Linked DNA regions of Homo sapiens. The protein of the gene in region 2 purifies or fractionates together with the protein of the main gene of each other region. This does not show direct contact. Each region holds a gene or a part of one and is shown on either strand. Other genes may lie near its edges.

Evidence for each region. Proteins that work in one complex are often made in the same cells at the same time.
Region 1: the proteins of MATN2 (region 2) and MAP2K3 purify together in Homo sapiens (affinity purification with mass spectrometry, with the first as the bait; one large-scale study listed by BioGRID). This does not show direct contact.
Region 3: the proteins of MATN2 (region 2) and HPR purify together in Homo sapiens (affinity purification with mass spectrometry; one large-scale study listed by BioGRID and IntAct). This does not show direct contact.
Region 4: the proteins of MATN2 (region 2) and HPX purify together in Homo sapiens (affinity purification with mass spectrometry; one large-scale study listed by BioGRID and IntAct). This does not show direct contact.

What each region holds. Positions count from the first base shown.
Region 1 is NC_000017.11:21,294,711-21,298,210, forward strand, and holds part of MAP2K3 (dual specificity mitogen-activated protein kinase kinase 3), read left to right. Parts: intron 1-964; exon of another isoform or gene 965-1,059; intron 1,060-1,375; exon of another isoform or gene 1,376-1,500; intron 1,501-3,500. UniProt on the Homo sapiens protein: Dual specificity kinase. Is activated by cytokines and environmental stress in vivo. Catalyzes the concomitant phosphorylation of a threonine and a tyrosine residue in the MAP kinase p38.
Region 2 is NC_000008.11:98,033,064-98,037,224, forward strand, and holds the end of MATN2 (matrilin-2 isoform a precursor), read left to right. Parts: coding exon 1-113; intron 114-497; coding exon 498-596; intron 597-2,593; coding exon 2,594-2,649; 3' UTR 2,650-3,661; downstream 3,662-4,161.
Region 3 is NC_000016.10:72,069,726-72,073,225, reverse strand, and holds part of HPR (haptoglobin-related protein isoform 1 precursor), read right to left. Parts: intron 1-3,500. UniProt on the Homo sapiens protein: Primate-specific plasma protein associated with apolipoprotein L-I (apoL-I)-containing high-density lipoprotein (HDL).
Region 4 is NC_000011.10:6,438,188-6,442,214, forward strand, and holds the start of HPX (hemopexin precursor), read right to left. Parts: upstream 2,801-4,027; 5' UTR 2,777-2,800; coding exon 2,694-2,776; intron 2,544-2,693; coding exon 2,485-2,543; intron 2,352-2,484; coding exon 2,280-2,351; intron 2,100-2,279; coding exon 1,978-2,099; intron 323-1,977; coding exon 169-322; intron 1-168. UniProt on the Homo sapiens protein: Binds heme and transports it to the liver for breakdown and iron recovery, after which the free hemopexin returns to the circulation.

The sequences.
Region 1 (3,500 bases), on a different chromosome or scaffold from region 2:
CTGAGGGTGGTGTTCTCTTGGGAGCTGTGCACTTCCAGATGGCCCCATCTAATCTCCACGCGCCAGGCACTGCTATGGCATGACGCTGATAACCCGGGGAGGTTTGTCTGTAATCTCCACTTTACATATGTCCAGAGAGGTGAAGCCACTTGCCTGAGGGCACACAGCTAGGAAGGGGCAGAGTTGCAGTTGAGCCCAGGCCTTGGCTCCAGAGTGAGTGCTCACAGGTGACCTGCTGACTGGCTCTCTGAGATGGTAACTGCAGAACGGCCACCTGTGGGACTCCACAGCAGAGAAGCCATCAGGCCACAGGGAGAGCCGGTCACTGGGGCCTGCGCAGTCAGGCAGCCTCTCTGAACTGGTGAAAGGCAAGACGACGTAGTAGCTAGGACAGTCACAGGGAAGAGCATTTCAGGCAGAGGGAAGGGCATGTGTGAAGGCCCTGCGGTGGGAAAGCAGGTGTCTCATTCAGAGAAGGGCTCACTCAAGGGTCGGGGGCTCTAGTTGGGGGTGAGTGGGAGGAGATAGGGCAGAGCTGCCACGGCCAGTGAGAGTTGTGTTCTAGTCTGGGGGTGCCTCTCTTTACCTGTGGTGTAGCCTCAGGTCAGTGGCTGAATTCTGGTCAGTTTCAGTTTCCTTGCCCCTGCCTGGGGGCTGCTATGAGGCTGGAGTATGTGGAGGACACCCCAGGACACCCCGTGCTGAGAGCCGGGACAGGCGGGCTTATCGTGGGTTGCCAGTGGCCGCCGAGAGCCTCTGTTTGTTGTGGTGATGGTTGCCACAACGGCTGCACCTGGGCAGCCCTGGGCTGCCTGGCCATCTGGGCCCAGCTCTGACGTCTGCAGCAGCCTGAGGCCTGTTTCTAGGCTGTCTCCATGACGGCCTCACCCACTCCCTCTGACAGCTGGGTGGCTTCCCCATGGAGCCTGTGGCCCTCCTGATGCAGGCTTGGTGTCCCCAACAGGCCGGTGGATGCAGAGGCCAGTCCATATACCACCCAGGCCTGCGAGGAGCGTGGTCCCCACCCATCCAGCCCATATGTGCAAGTGCCCTTGACAGGTGGGGAAACTGAGGCTTGGTGAAGGGGGGGCCACATGATACAACATTCCCAAATCCCAAGGCATGAGGTGGGTGGCAGGCTGGGGCCAGAGGGACCAAGAGCAGAGAGAGTGCAGGGAGGGTGTGGCGTGGACCCCACAGGGAAAGGGTGGGACTCAAGGGGCTGGGGGCAAGGTCAAGGCCCAGGGTCTCTGTGCAGAGCTTTAATTTTTAACAGAAAATATTTTATATTCTGGTTACGAAAAGCCTGACATCAGGAATAAAAGCTACCTATAATTCTCATTACTTAGGGCAGTTTTTTTTTTCACCTCTGCAGAGAGGCTGGTCATATCCATGGTGACCATTTATGGGCCACAACAGGTCCCCATCTGCGCAGTGAACCCTGTGCTGAGCACCTTGCAGACGTGATCTTGCTTCGTCCTGCAGCACTGTGCGGGGCAGGTGGGTGGCATTTCTGCCTCGAGCTGTTTTGTACATGAGGAACCCAAGGTGCAGAGGAGGGCACCATGCCAGGGTCGCAGAGCTGGAGTTTACCACGGCTGCGCCACTCCAAGCCCAGAGCCTCAGAAGTTCAGAGACTTTGGCCCAGAGGCAGGATAGAAGTGGCCTCAGAAGCTGCTGGCCCTGTGTGCCATGGTTTTTCCTGTTAGAATGTGCTGAGCCTCTGCATCTCCAGACTCTGTTGCCGTTTCTTGTTGAGCACGAGACTTGGGCCCCTCCTTCCGCCTCAGGGAGGGCTCCCTGTGGCAGGGGTGCTGTGAGCCATGGCCTGGCCTGTTGGGGTCTGCGAGTCAATAAACTCAGGAGTGACTCCTGGCCAGACCCCTGACTTGCTGTGCAGCCTGGGGCAAGTGGCTTCACCTCTCTGAGCCTGTTCCCCAAGTAAAGTGAGGTTGGGAGCCCCTCCCTGTAGGGCTGTGGGAGTATCTGGAGTCACAGATGAGAAGGGCCCTGCCTGTGGCCGGTGCTGTGGCTGTGACAGACTCGCAGTGAGACCCATGCGGTCCCTGACAGCCAGGGTGTTGCTGCATCTTAAAATGAGATAAAAACGCTGCGCACAGGAGTAGTGACTAGGCGATTGATTCATGGGGTGAGCAGTTAGCAGGCAGGCACCCAGTGCATGTGGCGGCAGCTGCTGCTGCTGCTGCTGCTGCTGCTTCTGTCTGTGGACGCTGTTGTTTCCTGAAGCCTCTGGGGCCTGGCAGCGGGGTCCCCGGGGTGGCTTTGGTGGAAAGGCTGCAGGTATCTGCTTGCCTGGCTCCTGCACTCTGCCCACCTGCCCCAGGATGGACCCTGGGACCCCTGTCCCTGCCAAGGCTATTCTGTTTCCTGTTGTTCTGGCCTTGTCTTCCCAGTAGCGGTAACCACCCTTCGCCCTCCATCTGGGCTGGGTTGGCTGCTGGGCCCCGGTGCGTGGCTCTGAGATGGGGCCACAAGTCTGTGTTGCACCGTGGCCAAGGCTGGATCTGAACCTGGCTTGGAGGCGGCTTCAGAGACTGGGGTCTTCTTGGCAGGCGGCAGCAGGGCCATGGGCAGTTTCTAAGCCCCAGTACCAGCAGCCAGGGTGAGCCAGCAGCAGGGAGTGGCGGGTGGTGGGTGAGGGCCAAGATGTGGCAGGATCATGCTTGGGAAATGATGAGGCAGAAGCTCCCACAAGGGCAGGCATGTGGCCAGCATGTCTGTACTGGGTGGTCTCCGGGAGCCGTGTCACTCCCAGCCCTGCTGCCTGATGGTGCCAGAGCACCAGGTGACCCTGGCATCTCTGATCCTTGCTTCTCCTGCCTGTGGAATGGCGGCTATGCCTTATTCAAAGGGCGGCCCTGACTACAGGGAGCTCTCTCTGCATGCCAGCCCCACTGTGCCTGGAGCCCCAGAAATGCTGACCCTCCGTTAGTACCAGCTGAGTGCTGTGCACCTGGCCAGGCTCTTGTAGCCAGCCTGAGAGGTGTGGACACTGGGGCCTCTCGCCTGTCCCTAGGGGTGGAGTGAGGAAGGTACTGCCCCGGGACTCTGGCCTGCCTGGTGCAGGGGAGGGGAGAGAGCCAGCGCTTTTCAGGGGAGGGAGAGAAACGGGCATCGGGTGTCGGCCTCCAGGGTGAGCAGGGCCCAGCAGAGCTAGCCTGGAGGGCAGCCCGGGCTGGAGTCCCCGCCTGCTCCACCGCCTGTTGCCCTTTCTGGGGGCCTGGCCTTCCTCATCTTGGATGCAGTATGAGCCCCATCCTGCTACCTGCAGCTAATGAAGCCCCTGTACAGTGGCTGCTGCAGGTGCTGGCTGGACCCCCGCTGGGCCCCTTCTCACCCCACATCCCATTGACTAGTCAGGCAGGGCAGTGAGGACACCTCACAGATGGGGAAACTGAGGCCCAGGGAGGTACTCAAGATGTGCCCAGTGGGCAGGGCTGAGATAAGGCCCTGGAGTCCAGCCTCCAGGCCTGGGTCTG
Region 2 (4,161 bases):
TATCCAAGACCTACTTTCCTGTTCTAATTTTGCAGTGCAACACAGATATCTGTTTGAAGAAGACAATCTTTTACGGTCTACACAAAAGCTTTCCCATTCAACAAAACCTTCAGGTAATTCCAAGTAAAATATTACTATAAGATAACTTGATCTCAGCCTTTCGGCTTGCCAACAACCTTAGCTTTAAGGAGGAAAGGAAAGAAGGAAGTAGGAAATAGTATAGAGGAAAAGAGAAGAAAGAATTTAAGTAAAATGAGAACTAAAACATAAACTAAAAGAAACTCAAGTAGTGTTCCTCAGTAATCCACAGTAAGGGCCACTTCCAGTGTTGGAAGCATATACAGTGCTTTCCTGGTATTTACTGGATCTGGCTGCATGGAAAAAGTGGAACATGTCTTTCATTATGGTTTCCTCCATATGCTGATTCATTCCTATTATTATGCGTCTGGGAAGTCTGGTGGATTCTAGAGGTGAACACTTTCCATCTGCTTTCTCAGGAAGCCCTTTGGAAGAAAAACACGATCAATGCAAATGTGAAAACCTTATAATGTTCCAGAACCTTGCAAACGAAGAAGTAAGAAAATTAACACAGCGCTATATCCTTTTCTTGCATTATGCTTCTGTATGGAATGCAAAGAATATTATCAAAACTTCACACACTCTATGTAGGTTTTATCAACTGAAGTAAATCCCACGAAGTCACAAAGAACAGTGATCTCCAGGAAAGGCTTTTTGCTTTAAAAAGCAGCCTCACAGGTGTTTGAGAGGCAAGGGCAAGCCAAGCTTATTAGCAGCAGTCAAGCACTTAGTTGCCATCGGCTGTTCTCGGGGGCTTAGCAATAAGGCCTGTCAGTCAGCATACAAAGTAAGGAAAAAAGAGACACTGGCCTAACTCCGTCTCTGCTAGGAAGGTGTGTAGGACATGATGAGGTCTGAAGTGCATCAAAGGTACGGTAAGTATAGACAAAGAATGTTGTAGAATGAAGAGGTTTCAAACTCAGTACTCCAAACTTTTCCTTTAGCCCCAAGGAACACCACAGCCACATATAGATTCAGTGTGTTTAGTTTCTGGAGGACAGGAGTGGTTTTTTCTTTTTTTTCCCTTGGCAGCAGAGATCTTCTCTATCGGCACTCTAAAAAATGAAACACTCCACCAAGGGAACAGCAGGATCCAATGATTCATTTAAACAATATTAAATAAAAGGAATGCTTGGGGATAATAAAGAAAAGAGGATTCGGTGCTTTTACATATTGAACACCCTGCCAAGTGCTCTAAACTTAAAATTACAGTAAGCGTACTAAAGCTGGCTGATATCTCAAGTGCATCAACTAGTCTATAGGGAAATGGCTTAATTCTGAACTATCTCTGTGCCAATGGGCTTATGTAATAAGGAACAACAGCATAGGGCAATTCCATTTCTGAAAGCTGGAAATACGCTCCCTTAAGTAAAATGAAATAATCTTTCTGAGTGGTTAATTGACGAATATGGGCTCTCATTCTGCCCTCAAGAGGGCAGATAGAGGGTACTGAGGAGCTTACAGGGAAGACCAATACCTATTCTAATGCCCTTTTCTTCTCGCTTGCCTGTCCCACCCCAAAGTTCTACTCACAAGAGACTAAAGAAGACATATTTTTACATAGGTCAGAATTCCTCAAAACCGTGGCCTTATGTAGCATCATGGTGAAAACTCCGTATCGCCCTTTGCTTCTGACTTCATATCTTACTTTCCAAGGCCGAATTCTTTCATTGTCTTCTCTTCACCAGATTCCCAACATTATCAATTCTGGCTCCTAGAAGTGTGCTATGGCAAACTAATTTGCAAGCATTAAGGGTGGAAGTGGAATCACAATTAAAAAAAAAAAAAAAAAGACTGCAGCTGGGTGCTGTGGCTCACACCTGTAATCCTAGCACTTTGGGAGGCCGAGGTGGCCTTGCTTGAGCTTAGGAGTTCGAGATCAGCCTGGGCAACATACTGAGGCCTTGTCTCTTAAAAAATAATAAATAAAATAAGGCCGGGCACGGTGGCTCACGTCTGTAATCCCAGCACTTTGGGAGGCCGAGGCAGGCAGATCACCTGAGGTGGGGAGTTCGAGACCAGCCTGGCCAACATGGAGAAACCCCACCTCTACTAAAAATACAAAATTAGCTGGGCGTGGTGGCGCATGCCTGTAATCCCAGCTACTCGGGAGGCTGAGGCAGGAGAATCGCTTGAACCCAGGAGGCGGAGGTTGCAGTGAGCCAAGATCGCGCCATTGCACTCCAACCTGGGCAACAAGAGCGAAACTCTGTCTCAAAAAAAGAGAAAAAAAACAAAAATAAATAAAATTAAAATTAAAAAGACAAATTCACACTGAGCCATCTGGCTTTGCTGATGTTAAAAAAAAAAAAACCCAAAATATTTGTCTTGACAGAATATGTTAAATGAGTTCTACAAATTTACAAGTCAGGGTTTTAACATACTTGACAGAAATGGGAAAAAAAACCAAAACCTTTTAGATTTCAGAAGCCAAAATTTTACGTGGATAAATCAAGTTATATTTAAATGTAAATAAAAATAGACAATTCTTCATCTTCCTTAATTTGAGATTTACTAGAAGAAATGACACAGAGAATGGAAGCCCTGGAAAATCGCCTGAGATACAGATGAAGATTAGAAATCGCGACACATTTGTAGTCATTGTATCACGGATTACAATGAACGCAGTGCAGAGCCCCAAAGCTCAGGCTATTGTTAAATCAATAATGTTGTGAAGTAAAACAATCAGTACTGAGAAACCTGGTTTGCCACAGAACAAAGACAAGAAGTATACACTAACTTGTATAAATTTATCTAGGAAAAAAATCCTTCAGAATTCTAAGATGAATTTACCAGGTGAGAATGAATAAGCTATGCAAGGTATTTTGTAATATACTGTGGACACAACTTGCTTCTGCCTCATCCTGCCTTAGTGTGCAATCTCATTTGACTATACGATAAAGTTTGCACAGTCTTACTTCTGTAGAACACTGGCCATAGGAAATGCTGTTTTTTTGTACTGGACTTTACCTTGATATATGTATATGGATGTATGCATAAAATCATAGGACATATGTACTTGTGGAACAAGTTGGATTTTTTATACAATATTAAAATTCACCACTTCAGAGAATGGTATTCAGTGCAAAAATTCTTAGTTTAACTTTAAATGGAAGATATGTATGTATGAGAAATGGCCAACATGCCTATGAAAAAAATGCTGAATCTCATCAGTAATCAGGAAAATGCAGGTTAAAACAATACCATTTTTCACCCATCAGCTTAGCAAAAATGAGTATATTTTTTAACAAGTGTTGGTAAGGATGTGGAAATGTGAGGTTCTTGTAGTAAGAATGCAAATGGCACTCTTTGTAGAGTAAGTCTGTTGACATCTCATAAAACTGAAAATGCACACAACCCTGTAAATCTAGCAACTGCACTCAGTTGATTTCAGCCCATACATACAAAGAGACCTGCATAAGAATGTTACTAGGCTTTGTAAAAGCAAAAAATAAGGAACAACTTAAACATCATCAGAAGGGGAACTGATAAACTCTGGTGTAATCCATACCACAGAAATACAACACCGCATGTACAGGAATGTGCTACATCTATACAAATAAATGGTCAAACTCAAAACAAAGATGACTTTAAAAAGAATGACAAAATGTTTAGCATACCATTCCTGAAAATTAAAAAAACAAAATAAAAAATGTCACGGTGAAACCCCGTCTCTACTAAAAATACAAAAAATTAGCCGGGTGTGGTAGTGGGTGCCTGTAGTCCCAGTTACTCAGGAGGTTGAGGCAGGAGAATGGCATGAACCCGGGAGGCGGAGCTTGCAGTGAGCCAAGATCGGGCCACTGCACTCCAGCCTGGGGACAGAGCGAGACTCCGTCTCAAAAAAAAAAATGAAAAGAAAAACCTAGATGGGTACCCCACTACACACCGAGGCTGTTTGTTATATACCCCATTGCTCCTAGACTACAAACCTGTACATCATGTTACTGAATACGGTAGACAACTGTAAAACAATGGTAAGTGTTGTATCTAAACACAGAAAAGGAATTTTTCAGCCTTATTATAATCTTATGGGATCACTGTTGTATATGCAGTCCATCACTGACCAAACGTCATTCTGAG
Region 3 (3,500 bases), on a different chromosome or scaffold from region 2:
TTTTTATGTCTAACGCAGCTTGTCCCTGCTACTGTATCCTGACTCCATTGGCTAGAGTTGGACCGTACAATCTAAGCTGAACCCGGTTGGCTAACTTGAAAAGTGCAGGAATGTGATTACACTGCTGGGAAGGCAGGAAGATCAGTTTTGCCGGGAGAAGCCATTGTGATGGGAGGGGTAATTCACAGAGTGGGTAGCAGATGTGGAATGTGGGCTCTATAGATAACGACTGGCGGGAAGGTTGTTTACCAGCGCAGGGAGAACACAGAGAGTAAGGAAGTCTGGCCTTGAAAGCAGGGAGCAAAGAACAAGGAAACTTAAGCAAGCTGAACCTTTGAAGAAGAATTTCTTACTGTATTTAACAATCCCCCTGTTAAATATTTTACAGTATTTTTTCTTTAAACCCTTTTAACATAATTTGGCTCTGTTATTCTACTTGGGTCTTCTAAAAGAAAAAGCTCACTGGAACGAGGAGGAGGAGGATTGAGGGAGGTTTTGGGGAGAGCTGTTTCAATGAGCTTTTGTATTAATCCTAGGGCACAGGGTATGACACAGCATCCTACAAGAATAAGCAACCCTATTCTGATGGCAAGAGACATGAGGATTGAGGACATAAATCCCTTCCATTTGCCAAAGAATTTCCCATTAAATTTGTGAAGGGGTCGTTTAGTCCAGAATTTTTGGCTAGCTCATTTGATAAGGCAGTAAGACCTTGTAGTGCTTTTGGTGTGATCCCACCTGGAGTAGTATTATTAGGGATAAAAGTATAGCATCGGGTTCCGATAATGACACAATCTCCACCCTCTTTCGCTGGTATCATGTCTAATGCTATTTTATTTTCCCAGGCCATTTGACTGGTGGGTCTTAATTGTTCAGCTGTCCCTTTAAGAGCATCTCTAGTATAATTAACAAATCATAGGCTGGGCACAGTGGCTGATGCCTGTAATCCCAGCACTTTGGGAGGCCGAGGCAGGCAGATAACCTGAGGTCGGGAGTTTGAGACCAGCCTGACCATCATGGAGAAACCCTGTCTCTACTAAAAATACAAAATTAGCCAGGCGTGGTGGCACATGTTTATAATCCCAGCTACTCGGGAGGCCGAGGCAGAAGAATTGCTTGGACCCAGGAGGCAGAAGTTGTGGTGAGCCGAGATCATGCCATTGCATTCCAGCCTGGGCAACAAGAGCAAAACTCCGTCAAAAAAAAAAAAATCATCATTGGTTGTAATAAATGTAGTTTATCTAATTCACATTTTTATTTATAGTTAACCACCAGAAGAACGTGGATTCAAATCCTGCAGTTGTCTGATTTTGGGCCTTAAATTCATCTGGCACTCCTCGTTGGACTCCAGTGGAATCTATATAAATGTGGGAGTCAACAGACCCATGAGGGGCCTCTCTTGTTTTACAGTGTTTGGTTTCTGTCTTTTCTGGTTGATGAAATGCCAGGGTGAAAGGGATAGCCAATGGAATTAGAGTGCATGTTCTGCTCCAGTTACTCGGCAGTGTCCAGTAATGGTCCACCACAATACCACCATACATCCGCTCGAGGATGACTAAGGGCAGACTGATGGGTAAGCTCTTGGAAGGACTTAAGCTCACTGCATCCCATTAAGGCTCCAAGGAACACCAAGTTTTCTCCCTGTTGTGAGAGACACAAAGTAAAATTGGCATTGGGAAACGGAAGCTGATGGCCCTCGGGGGCTGACCCTCAGGGTGTTGAGCTTCAGGGAACAGCAGAGAAAGAGCTTGACATGATTTGTCACCCCAGGCTGTGTGATCTTGGAAGAGAACTACCATACAGCTTATGCCCGGTCAGTTAGAAGACCATCTGAGTGGAAAGGGGACAATCTGGGCCTCTGGTCTACCGTGAGCACAAGCATAACATTCATATTTGTTTAAAGTGCAGATGGAATATTTAATCCATTTTAGCCAAGCATTTGCATCTTGACATCCTGTCTCTAGGGCTATAGTCTGCTTTAAATTTTTTACCTTTACAACCGTTACTTTAGTTGGGTTGTTTTGGAGATGGGAGGAGGACGCTGAGCTCGCTATACTTGGAGAGAGTGTTAGATTCCACTCGTTTCCCAGACTCTGGGTGTGGATTTTTTTTTAATTATCATTGTTAACCAGTGGTTGAAGATTTTTATGGGATTTTGTTTTGTAACATTTGCTCCTAATCCATACTGTTTGAATATAGTGGGTTCTTGGGCCATTGTTTGGGGGTTAGCTATAATTAGCAATGAGGGGTTACACTGCAGTGGCTTACAGTTTGGTGGGGTGGGACCATGAATTAGTTGGAGTTTCTGTTTTAGTCCCCATAACTTATTTGAAAAAGGGGGCCTGGCTGTCCACCCTCCATACTGAGTGGTTTCCAAACATCTGTCCAGTCACCACAGGGACTTTTTAAGGTTCTATACTTATACTTGGTTGACTTTTTATGGTATGGACATAGGTACTTATCTACATGAGACAGCTTCCTTTGAGCTTGCTTGTCTCCACACAGGATGACTGAACAAGCATCAAACTGAAGGATTAAAGGATGGTTAGCCCAAGTTACATTGATGACAAGATGACCTTCTGTTGGAAAGAAAAGAAAAAATAAACAAGTGATTATTAAGCCCTTTTTAGAGTTAATTTGGTTGGGGTGAGCCCTGGAGTGACGGTTTATGATCCTGGAGGTGGCAGCGCCTTTTTGACGCGGGTGTGATCAGTCCATCCTCATTCTGCTGTTCGGACTGCAGTCTTAGTATTTAGGAGCACCAAGTAGGGTCCTTCCCAAGCTGGTTTGAGTTTGCCTTCCTTCCACCCTTTTATGAGGACATGGTCTCCAGGCTGACGCTAATGTGCTGGAAACTCCAGCGGTGGCGCCTGTGCTAGGAGACCTTTAGTCTTAAGGGAAGAGAAAGTAGAGTATGGACCAAGTATATAATTTTTGAGGAACTGATCTTTTATTTTGAATGTAGGAATGTTAGCAGTGGAGTATAAATAGGGCAATCCATAGAGCATCTCATAAGGGGAAAGGCCAGTATCTCTCTGAGGAGCAGTTCGGATTCTTAACAAGGCAATAGGAAGACATTTAGTCCATGGCAATCAAGTTTCTAGAACTAATTTAGTTAAGTGGCTTTTTAGAGTCTGATTCATCCTTTCTACTCTTCTTGAGGAGGAGAGATGCCAAGGGATATGGTTTTTCCATTTTATGTCTAGTACCTGGGCTAACTTTTTAATGACATATGCAGTGAAATGGGTTCCATTGTCTGAATCAGTGCTTTGTATTAGTCCAAATCTGGGTACAATGTTTTCAATTAATGCCTTAACTACGTTACTGGTGGTTGCATTTGAGTGTGGGATAGTCTCTACCCAGTAGGTAAAGTGGTCTATTATTACTAATAAGTATTTTAAATGACCAATTGGGGGCATTTCAGTATAATTAATTGAACACTTGGAAATGGTCTTAGCCCTGAATCTCTTTCTCCAAGGGGCGGTTTTCTTAGAATCTGC
Region 4 (4,027 bases), on a different chromosome or scaffold from region 2:
CTCCTTCCCTCACGTGACCTCTAGACCATACGTGGCTTCTCTATTTCCCTTCCTTAAAAAGCCACATAGTGGCTCCACCACCACCATCACTACCACTATCACCATCACTACTGGCATCACTACCAACCCACCACTACTCCAGGTTCTTGGATTCCAGCCTGGACTGACCTTGGAAGAAGAGGACGCCTTCAGCTTGACATTCTCCACGGTGACATTCCACAGCTGCATCCAGTGGGGATGGGATTCCAGGAAATTCATCTTGGAGCAACTTTGGGTATCCTTTCTCCTTCTTTTCAGGAGGGTATACCCAGACTTTGTCCCCCTGCATTCAAAAGTACTCTCTTTTTGACTGTGCATCCCCAGATACTGCCACTCTGCATTTACACACATTTTTTATCTACTGTGCTTATACGATATCCTCCTGTGGCCCTACACATTCTCAGTCCATCTGTGGACAACAATGTGCTGTCCTTTTGCACATTACACACTCTCAGTTTGTGCAAATCCAGTCACTATTACTATAACACACATGCCTCTAGCTCTGTACCCAGACACTCCTGTGGCACATTTATCTGCAACACTATCAGTGTTGACAAACATATCCACAACTGTTCATCCTGCAATCACCCATACGTTATTTCTTCATTCATTTCTTCATTTATTTATTCATTCATTCATTCATCCAAGAAACAGTCACTGAATAACTACTATATGCCAGGCATTGTGAGAGGCACTGAGGATAACAAGACTCTGTCTTTCACTTCAGGAAGTTCACTGTACAAAAGCAGAAAGGACTCCTGCAATCCTAGCCATGCAACTACCAAGGTGTAGTGTAAAGAGTGCACTGAGAATATAGACAGAGTGCCTAAGTCTGCCTAGAGAAGTTGTGGAAGGTTTCACACCAAAGAGGAAGCATTGGGCCCAAGAGCTGAAAAATCAGCAGGAATTTTCCAGGTTGACAAGTGAGGAAAGGGTGTTACCAGCAGAGGGAGCAGCATGCAGAGCCCAAACATGAGGAAGCAGTGTGCTCCAACCTCATGTAGATTCGTATGGCTGGCACACAGTGAATGTGGCAGGGGAGGAGATAAACCTGAGAAGATAACCAAGGCCCAGATCATGAGACCCTGTGTGCACTTGGTTTGTAGTAATCAGGCACATTTTGGGGTCATTTACTGAAACAGGAAACACAGGAGGAAAGGTTGGTTTGTAAAGAAGATGCAAAGCTTAGTTTGGGGGATGCTGAATTTTAGGTGCCTGTAGAACATACAATTGGAAAGAGATGTCTGGAGCTCAGAAAGTAGATCTAGATCCAGTGTCCACAGCATAGATATTCCTCAGAGCCAAGGTGATGGTTGAGATCACTGAGGGAAGGTATATGGAAAGGCTAGGATGGATCCCCAAGGAACATTAGGGAACTGGTTGAGATAGAATGAGACATTTGAGAAGAGAGAGAAAAGAGGCAGGAGGGAAAACAAAGCCGACAGTCAGGACTTCCCCAACCACACAGCACCTTTGGCAAGGTAGGAAAAGGCACCCCTTCCTCTGAGCAGACACAGCCTGGGTCACATGGGACTTGGTGAGCACAGCAGACTGGATTTCATGCTCCACATGCTCTTCTAGCCAGGTGCCATTGTGTTGGGAACAACTTGCCTTGCCCTATGAAGAGGACTTGATACAGGGTCATGGAAGGCAAGGGAAGCAATTGCCAGAGAAAAAAAGGATGGCCAGCAGTGTGAGGTACAGCAGAGCGGTGTAGAACTAAGACTAGGACTGAAGAACAGCCACTGGATGGTGCACCTGCCAGGCCCACACGCATGCACACTCCCTTAGCCCAAGCTTTTACAGGAAAGGAGGGCACATGGGAAAGAAATCTGCTACCTATTGCTATGGGCTCCATGCCAAGGCCATTTGGGGGAAGGGTCCCCAGTGTCGATTCCAGCCCTTTCCAGCCTGGCCCTGATTTTGGCCCAGCAGTACCTTGATCAGAAAGACACTGTTGTGACCTTGACGGAATGCAGCATCCACAGGGCTGGGGAAATTCTTCCATCTCTCTGAGATTAACTCCCGGTCCCATTTGTGACTCTTCCACACAAACTCCCCTGAAAAAACCCACACTCACTGAGGGGCCCAGTGAGAAACCTTTGACCTACTGAGATAGCTTGAGAGAAGCTGTCAGTGATACCATCAGATAATTCCTAAGACCTCCCACAGACAGGGACACCCTTTGTGAAGGAGAGTAAGTCTAAGGTCCTAAACGCCCTAACCTCAGTCCCTCCTACCTTTAAAAAACAGCATGGTTCCATTGTCATCCAGGGTGGTAGCATCAAAGCTCCAGCCATCTGAGCAGCGTTCTGGGGTGGAGGTAGGGAGATGGCAAAGTAAAAAAAAAAAAAAAAAAAAAAAAAAAAAAAAAAAACCAGAAGGTGATAAAATGCAGAGACACAACCAGACAGATAAGACAGACTTAGGGAGTCAGGGCCTCACCAGTCACGTCTGGGTCTGGCTTGGTCTCGCCTTCAGCAACATTCCCATGGGCACTAGTCCTAGGGAGAACAAAATAGATATCTTGATCCATTGGGACCGATCCCTTTCCCATAGCCCCTGACCCCAAATTTGACCGAGGCCTAAAAACTGGCCCTACCTTACCCTAGCCCAGAACTCAATCCTTCGCTTCTAGTCCCAGCTTTACTCACGGAGGAAGAGGGGTGGCAATGGCCAGAGACCAGCATAGGCTCCACAACCCCAGTGCAACGGGTGCTCCCAGTACCCTAGCCATGCTGAGCTGCAGAGGCCACAGGACAGCTCTGGGTGACCAGTTGAACTCCCTATATAGAGTTGGCAGCAGCACCACCCCCACCTCCAACTCTACTGGGAATGTGCTGTCTCCCAGGACTAAGCCAATATTGGCTGATTACATCACTGCAAATAAGGTCAGGGTCTGGACAGAAATCTGAATCCAAGACTCCTTTTTCCCGGCAGCTGCCCCCCAACCCCCTTCAGCAATTTTCAAGCAGTAACTGGGCTACACTGCTGACGTCCAGCTGTGACTCTCACACTGGCAATGGGTCCAGGCATCCATAAGTCAGGGAAGTGAGTAGACTGAGGATCACCTTTTGTGATTGAGTTTATCTCCACAATGGGGGAGGTGAGAAAAGGAGGGAACTAATATTGCTGTGTACTGTGTCAAGCCCTGCTCTAAGGCAGCTAGAGACAGCAATACTTACTACTTTTAGTAACCACACACACAGATAAACTTACTTAGAAATACTCAGAGAACAGCTTTTTCCAAGCTTCATCAGGGGCCTTTCTGGGGCATGCCCAAGCCTCTTCAGCTTTACCCTTGGGCTAGTGAGTCTGGGGACAATAATGTCTCACTGTTGTCAAATGTCCAAGCCCCATGCCCAGCCTCTCGCCTTCCCTGACTGGCAAAGGGCTTTGCAAAAAGTGCCTGGAAGTGAAGGGTTGACAGTAATGAGGCAGAAACAGGAGGTGTCTCTCTTCCAGAGAGCACCACCACTACTAGTAATTAGTCTTTCTTGGTAGTTTCCACCTTGGGGGAAAAAGCTTTATTTAACCAACCCAGAACAAATAGAACTGTAACTGGAATTTCACAATATTTCTAGCTGACTCCTGCTTAAATGCTACCTTCTCAATGAAGCCTTTCTTGACCACCTTATCTAGCCATTTCAGACCCTTGCTTGTTTTATTTTACTTACTAAAACTTGAAATTCTTTCATCTGTCTACTTATCTGGTGATGGTTGTTGTTGCTTTGCTTTGTTTTGCCTGTCTTGTTTACCATTATATATCCCTGACTCCTAAAATAGTGCCTGGCATATAAGAGTTGTTCCAGAAATATTTGTTGAATGAAAAAAATGCAAAAATGCATTTCAAGTACTGAGTAGTGTTGCTAGTGTTGCAGCCAAATTTCTGACAATTTCCCCCCCTCTAGGGTAGGAGAATATTAGGAATTGGGGGTAGGTTATGGTAGTAGGCATAATGAGATCTAGGAGTCACAGACGCCCTTTA